Linked DNA regions of Homo sapiens. The protein of the gene in region 1 purifies or fractionates together with the protein of each later gene. This does not show direct contact. Each region holds a gene or a part of one and is shown in the gene's direction. Other genes may lie near its edges.

Region 1 (2,835 bases):
ATAAAATAGTTAGCACATATTGTGTACTTTCTTCAGTGCCAGGCACTCTTCTAACCACTTTATATGTATTAGCTCATCAGACTCAGCCTGATAATATGAGATGAGTCCTGTCATTATCCACATATTAGATAACAAATCTGAGACATAGAAAAGTAATCTGCCTTAGGTCATTCAACTGATAAAGGATAGAGTTGGGATTTGAATGAGGGCACTCTGGTTTGAGCTTGTAATCATTATATCATAAAGGACATGATGCTTGACTTCTCTTTCTCTCACCCTAATTCAACCTATTGCCAAGTATTGTACATTCTCCATGCTTAAAATCTCTAGGCGGTGTCCCTGAAGTATAAATCCAAAGCCTTCATGCCTGTAATCCGAGTGCTTTAGGAGGCCAAGGCAGGAGGACTGCTTGAGCCCAGGAGTTTGAGACCAGCCTGGACAACAAAGTGAGATTCATCTCTACAAAAAAAAAAAAAAAAAAAAAATAGCCAGGCGTGGTGGCACATGCTGGCTAAAGGGGGAGGATTGCTTGAGCCCAGGAGGTCGGGGCTGCAGTGAGCCGTGATCACACCACTGCACTCCATCCTGGGCAATAAAGTTCAAGCATTTCACTTGGATTTAAGGTTCTTTATAATCTAACATCTACTTCTCTTGCCTTCTTATTAACTCCCCATTCTTGTATTCCTAATAACCAGCCAGTAGAATTAAATTATTTGCATGGGTCCTATCTCCTTTTCCACTAAGCTGTTGCACATTGTTAGAATTCTTTTCTTTATCCCTTTTATGTCTCAGCTTCAATGTCACATCCACTAATTAGAGCATTAGATGGCGCTCTACTGTACTTAACACCTATCACAGCATTTAGGACACTGTATTTTAATTATTGCCTTACTTGTTTTTTAGTATCTCCCACTAGATTGTGGAGGTACTTGTTTCTTGAAGGCAAGGACAGGTTCACCTTCTTTTCTTTTTTTTTCTTTTAGACGGAGTCTTGCTCTGTCGCCCAGGCTGGAGTGTAGTGGCACGATCTCGGCTCACTGCAAGCTCCGCCTCCCGGGTTCACACCACTCTTCTGCCTCAGCCTCCAGAGCTGCTGGGACTACAGGCGCCCGCCACCATGCCCGGCTAATTTTTTGTATTTTTAGTAGAGACGGGGTTTCACTGTGTTAGCCAGGATGGTCTCAATCTCCTGACCTCGTGATCCGCCTGCCTCGGCCTCCCAGAGCTGCTGGTACTACAGGCACCTGCCACCATGCCCGGCTAATTTTTTGTATTTTTAGTAGAGACGGGGTTTCACTGTGTTAGCCAGGATGGTCTCGATCTCCTGACCTCGTGATCCGCCTGCCTCGGCCTCCCAGAGTCCTGGGATTACAGGCATGAGCCACTGCGCCCGGCCAGTTCACCTTCTTAATGTCACTCATATCCATCCCCTTCTCTCTCTCTCTCTCTCCTACCGTACTTTAGGCCCTCATTATCTCTAGCATGGACAACTGCCTTAGTCCATTAACTGTTCCCCCTGTCCCTAGTCCATCCTTTATTTAATCCATACTCAACCCTGCAGAGGCAGATTCGTATAACAGCTGAGTTAACACTTCCTGCTTAACACTTCAGTGGATCTTAGCTGCCTTTTAAAAAGTCCAAATATTTTGGTTCATTACATGAATTTATCTCCTCCCATTTTCTATCTCCTTATTACCTTGTACCTAGTAGGAACTCCATAAATACTTGTTGAATGAATATGGTACTGTGTCAAAGTCAGTCAAGCAGAACCAAGAACAAAGAGGTTAACCAAAGTAATGCAGTCTCGGTTGCGAGGCTTCCTAGGACAGTATAGCCATAGGCTTAAGTGGAAGTCGAAGACTAGTAGTGTAACTCTTTCTCTTAGGAGGGAATCCCCAAACATACCTTACTATTAGATGACTCTTTGTCTTTGCATATGCCTGGAATATGCTCCTCGACCTGGCAAACTTATCAGATTTGGTGACTCAGTTCAAGTATTCCTTCCTCTATTAAACCTCTCCACACCTTTCTAGACAGAATGTAAACTGATTCAACTTTTTGTAGGTTAGTTTATAAACTACAACAAGAGTGATGAAAATATGAAGACTCTTTAATCTAGAATTGTACTTCTAAGATATTACTTAACTAAATGATTTGGGGCCAGGTGTAGTGGCCCATGCCTATAATCCCAGCACTTTGGGAGGCTGAGGCAGGAGGATCACTGAAGCCCAGGAGTTCAAGATCAACCTAGGCAACGTAGGGAGACCCCCATCTCTACAAAAAATTTAAAAATTAGCCAGGCATGGTGGCGCATACCTGTAGTCCCAGCTGCTTCAGAGGCTGAGATGTGGAGATTGCTTGAGCCCAGGAGGTCGAGGCTGCAGTGAGACAATTACAGAGTGATACCCTGTCTTAAAAATAAAAAATAAAAAAGCCTAGCTACCTAGTTATGAACTTTCTTTATTTAGAACCAAACTCTTAACCTCAAGTTATACACTTTAATAATCCATTCTATTCCCAGTTCTTCAACCTGAAGGAAAATTATATTCTAAGAAATAGAATTGGAATAGAATGATTTAAGACCATAAGTAATCAAAATACTTCATTTTCATAGCTAGTATTTTCAACCTTTTGCTGCCTAATATTTCATTAGCAATGGTAACATGAATAATGTGGAAAGCATCCAAACATAGTGAATTTATTCTTAGCCTTTGTATATAAACCTGCATACTCCCAGTTGCCTCTCTCTCTGACCTCAAGGGTTCATCCTAAGTTAATATTGATCTAAATAAAAGTTATGCTGCCAGTAAATCATATATCCCAAAGTCAAACAGG
Region 2 (3,500 bases), on another chromosome or scaffold:
AAGCTGATTGAGCTCGAGTTTATGTAACTATTCTTGTCCAATCTGTTCTTTTAACAATCTCTTATGGCCTGGCTTTTTGTGCTTTTTTTTTTTTTTTCTGTAATGGCAACCTTACTGGTGTAATTAGTAGTCCAAATATATTTGGATAGTTCTTATGCTTATGTACTAAGCAGCTAAAGAGGGAATATTACAGGATGGTTAAAAGTACAGACTCTGGAGATGAAATGCTTGTCATGGATCTCTGAATCTGTCACTTGCTAACTTTCTGATTGGGGGACAAATTAACTTCTGTCTTATTTTTCTTTTTATCATCTGTAAAATGTGGTATACCTTCTTCATAGGGTCATTGTAAAGGTTAAATGAGGAAGACAGTGCTTCCTGACTTTTTTCACATGGCACATATAGAAAATGATGAATTTTTACAGGTGGGTAAAAGAATGAGCTACAAGGAAATCCTACATAGACCTTGCATGACCGCCTCCAGGACTGGTGGAATCAGTAGTCCAGCTATACTTCCCGCTCGTTAATGGGCCACAAGTATATCATAGGATACATGTTGAAGAGCTGTGAATTCATTCATGAAAAATATTTTAAATACATAGCAGAAGTTTAGAAAGCCTGAGTCATTGTTTCATATAAGTAGAGAGGACACTGCAGTAACTAAAGAACTGCCATTCCTGCCAGGCAAGAAACTCAGCATCTTAAACTATAGACTGTCTGTCCTAGAGGTATTAAAGTTTTCATACTTCATAAAGGTGTTAAACATTTGCATCTGTCTTTCAGATATTGTTCCGGTATCTTACAACTTTTAGTCAACACGCGATTAGAGCTCAGTTAAGAGCTCATTAAGTCTTTGGGCTACATATTGCTTATTGATTGTGGTTATCATTTCACTACCTAATTCTCACTTTTGTCTATAATTAGGGTCGTCGGGCTGTTAAAGCGGGAGCTTATGCTGCTTGCCAGGAAGCAAAGGAAGATATAAAGGTAACTTTCTGAATTAGGGGGAAAAAGAGAAGTTAAAGATGAATGTACATTACAAGAGCCCAAGTAGAATAATTTGAGTGATGATGTCGTTGAAGTGGTTTGGGGCACCTAGATGCAGAGATTTGGAACTGGCAGGGTTATGTGATTTCTTCATTTGAAGTATAAATCCCTTAACTAAAAGCAAATTTTAAATGCTATTTTTTTGGTTCGTTCCCTTCATTTGTAGAGTCATTCAGAAAATGTCTCTCAACATCCACTTCATGTAGAAGTATTACACTCAGAGATTATGGCTCATCAGAAATTTGCTTTGCGTCTTGGTTCCTGGATGAACAAAATTATGAGCTATTCAAGTAAGCATACCTCCTGTTTTTCTTGTTTCTGATAAAATACTATGTGTTTTATAGCCACAAATTTTAAAATGTCATTGAGTATGAAATAAAGTTTTTCTTTTTTTTTTTTTTTTGGTTTATACACTTTGATTAATTTTCAGGGTTGCATTTCAAATGTATAATATCTTAGGATATTATTTCAAGTGCATAGTATCAAATAATATCTTTTTATTGGCTGTTGAGTCTTTGATGTTGACAGAATTATTCTTTGCCTCAAATGTGGGAGGATTAATATTATTCTTTTCACATGTTATAGGAAATGTACTTTTAGGAGAAATGTTATAAGAATAAAAATTATGGCTGAGTACAGGGGCTCATGTCTGTAATGCCAGCACTGTGAGAGGCTGAGGTGGAAGGATCGCTTGAGCCCAGGAGTTCAAGACCAACCTGGGCAACAGAGTGAGACTCATCTCTATTTAAAAAGAAAAAGAATACAAGTTGTGTAACTGTGTGACCTCTTTTGTTTGTAGGTGACTTTAGGCAGATCTTTTGCCAAGCATGCCTTAGAGAAGAACCTGACTCGGAGAATCCCTGTCTCATAAGCAGGTTAATGCTTTGGGATGCAAAGCTTTATAAAGGTAAGTAGACATTTGCTTATGCTGTTTGTCAGGAAGCAAAGGAAGATTATGACCTTAAAGTGGAGCTGTAATATCTTTTGTTTATTAAATTAGTTATTAAATCTGTAATCTTGATTGATAAGATACTACATGTGAATATAAAGTTTAACCAGTCAGTATGTATTCTTTGGTGTTAAAACCCAGGGATGTTGTCTTTTAATTATAGAGTCTTTTCATTTAGTGAGAGCCAGTCAAAAAGAGTATATATGTATGTGTCTATACATGTATCTATATATTCAGGTAGTAGTGCCATTATCGAGTAGCGAAAAAGATGCTATTTTCATTGTAAAAATCTAAATGAAGAACAAAACGTAAAAGGCTAAAAGCATGGAGAAGGAAAAGTACAGTGAAATAGAAAAAGAATGAAAAGGTTGGGAGAGAGTAAATTGAAGTGTAAGATGAAGTGGTGGGAGGGGTGCAGAAAAAGAGGGAAAAGGCAATATATGTGTGTATTTTAAATTCCAGTTATTAAATATTAATACAATAAATACTATTTGAGGTCTGTTTGCATGTGAAGTAATTTTATAATATTCTGCCACTCTAATAGCCAGAATGTTTTTGGTTTTTGCCTTGGTGATTCTCCTCATTCCCCCACCCTCCCCAAAATAATCTATAGGTGCCCGTAAGATCCTTCATGAATTGATCTTCAGCAGTTTTTTTATGGAGATGGAATACAAAAAACTCTTTGCTATGGAATTTGTGAAGGTAATTATTTATAAATTAGATATCAATAAATAGAAATAGGCAGTTTTTATAAATGAATTAATAGAAACAGGGATAATTATGAATCAAAAATTAAATGTTATGATTTATTTCTTTGTCAAAAGTTTGTTCTTGGCCCTGCGGGTTGGCTCACGCCTGTAATCCCAGCACTTTGGGAGGCTGAGGTGGGTGGATCATTTGAAGTCAGGAGCTCGAGACCAGCCTGGCCAACACGGTGAAACCCCGTCTCTACTACAAATACAAAAATTAGCCAGGCATGGTGGCAGGTGCCTGTAGTCCCAGCTACTCAGGAGGCTGAGGCAGGAAAATCACTTGAACCTGAGAGGCAGAGGTTGCAGTGAGCCAAGATCGCGCCACTGCCCTCTAGTCTGGGCAACAGAGTGAGACTCCCATCTCAAAAAAAAAAAAAAAGTTCGTTCTCATACGTTATATAAATATTTTCACAAATGTTATTTGCTAGTATAGAAACAGCATTCTTAGAGAAGAGATAGGTGGAAAATGACCCACTGACCCAGAGCAAAGGGAGGTTATCACATTCACATATGCATTCAGTCTTCCTAATCATTTATTTGCCTGTTAGTAAAATTACAATAAGAATAGAAGTGACTAATTGAAAAGTATAGCAGGAAAGAAGAACAGATGTGTATGCTAAAGTGGGGGGCAGGAATTAGGTGGCCAAGAGTTCTACTTAGTTTTTGGAAGCTAAAGCATAAGGCTAAAATTTACAGCTTTTTAATGTTTTATTAATCTATCGTGTATCTCTTACCTTACTGTATCTTTTTGT

Evidence for each region. The genes of interacting proteins can lie anywhere in the genome.
Region 2: the proteins of LIPT1 (region 1) and UBR1 purify together in Homo sapiens (affinity purification with mass spectrometry; 3 studies listed by BioGRID and IntAct, with this or other methods). This does not show direct contact.

The regions. Positions count from the first base shown.
Region 1 is NC_000002.12:99,157,967-99,160,801, forward strand, and holds part of LIPT1 (lipoyl amidotransferase LIPT1, mitochondrial precursor), read left to right. Parts: intron 1-330; exon of another isoform or gene 331-446; intron 447-2,835. UniProt on the Homo sapiens protein: Lipoyl amidotransferase that catalyzes the transfer of lipoyl moieties from lipoyl-protein H of the glycine cleavage system (lipoyl-GCSH) to E2 subunits of the pyruvate dehydrogenase complex (PDCE2).
Region 2 is NC_000015.10:43,057,539-43,061,038, reverse strand, and holds part of UBR1 (E3 ubiquitin-protein ligase UBR1), read left to right. Parts: intron 1-924; coding exon 925-987; intron 988-1,213; coding exon 1,214-1,337; intron 1,338-1,846; coding exon 1,847-1,954; intron 1,955-2,609; coding exon 2,610-2,698; intron 2,699-3,500. UniProt on the Homo sapiens protein: E3 ubiquitin-protein ligase which is a component of the N-end rule pathway. Recognizes and binds proteins bearing specific N-terminal residues that are destabilizing according to the N-end rule, leading to their ubiquitination and subsequent degradation.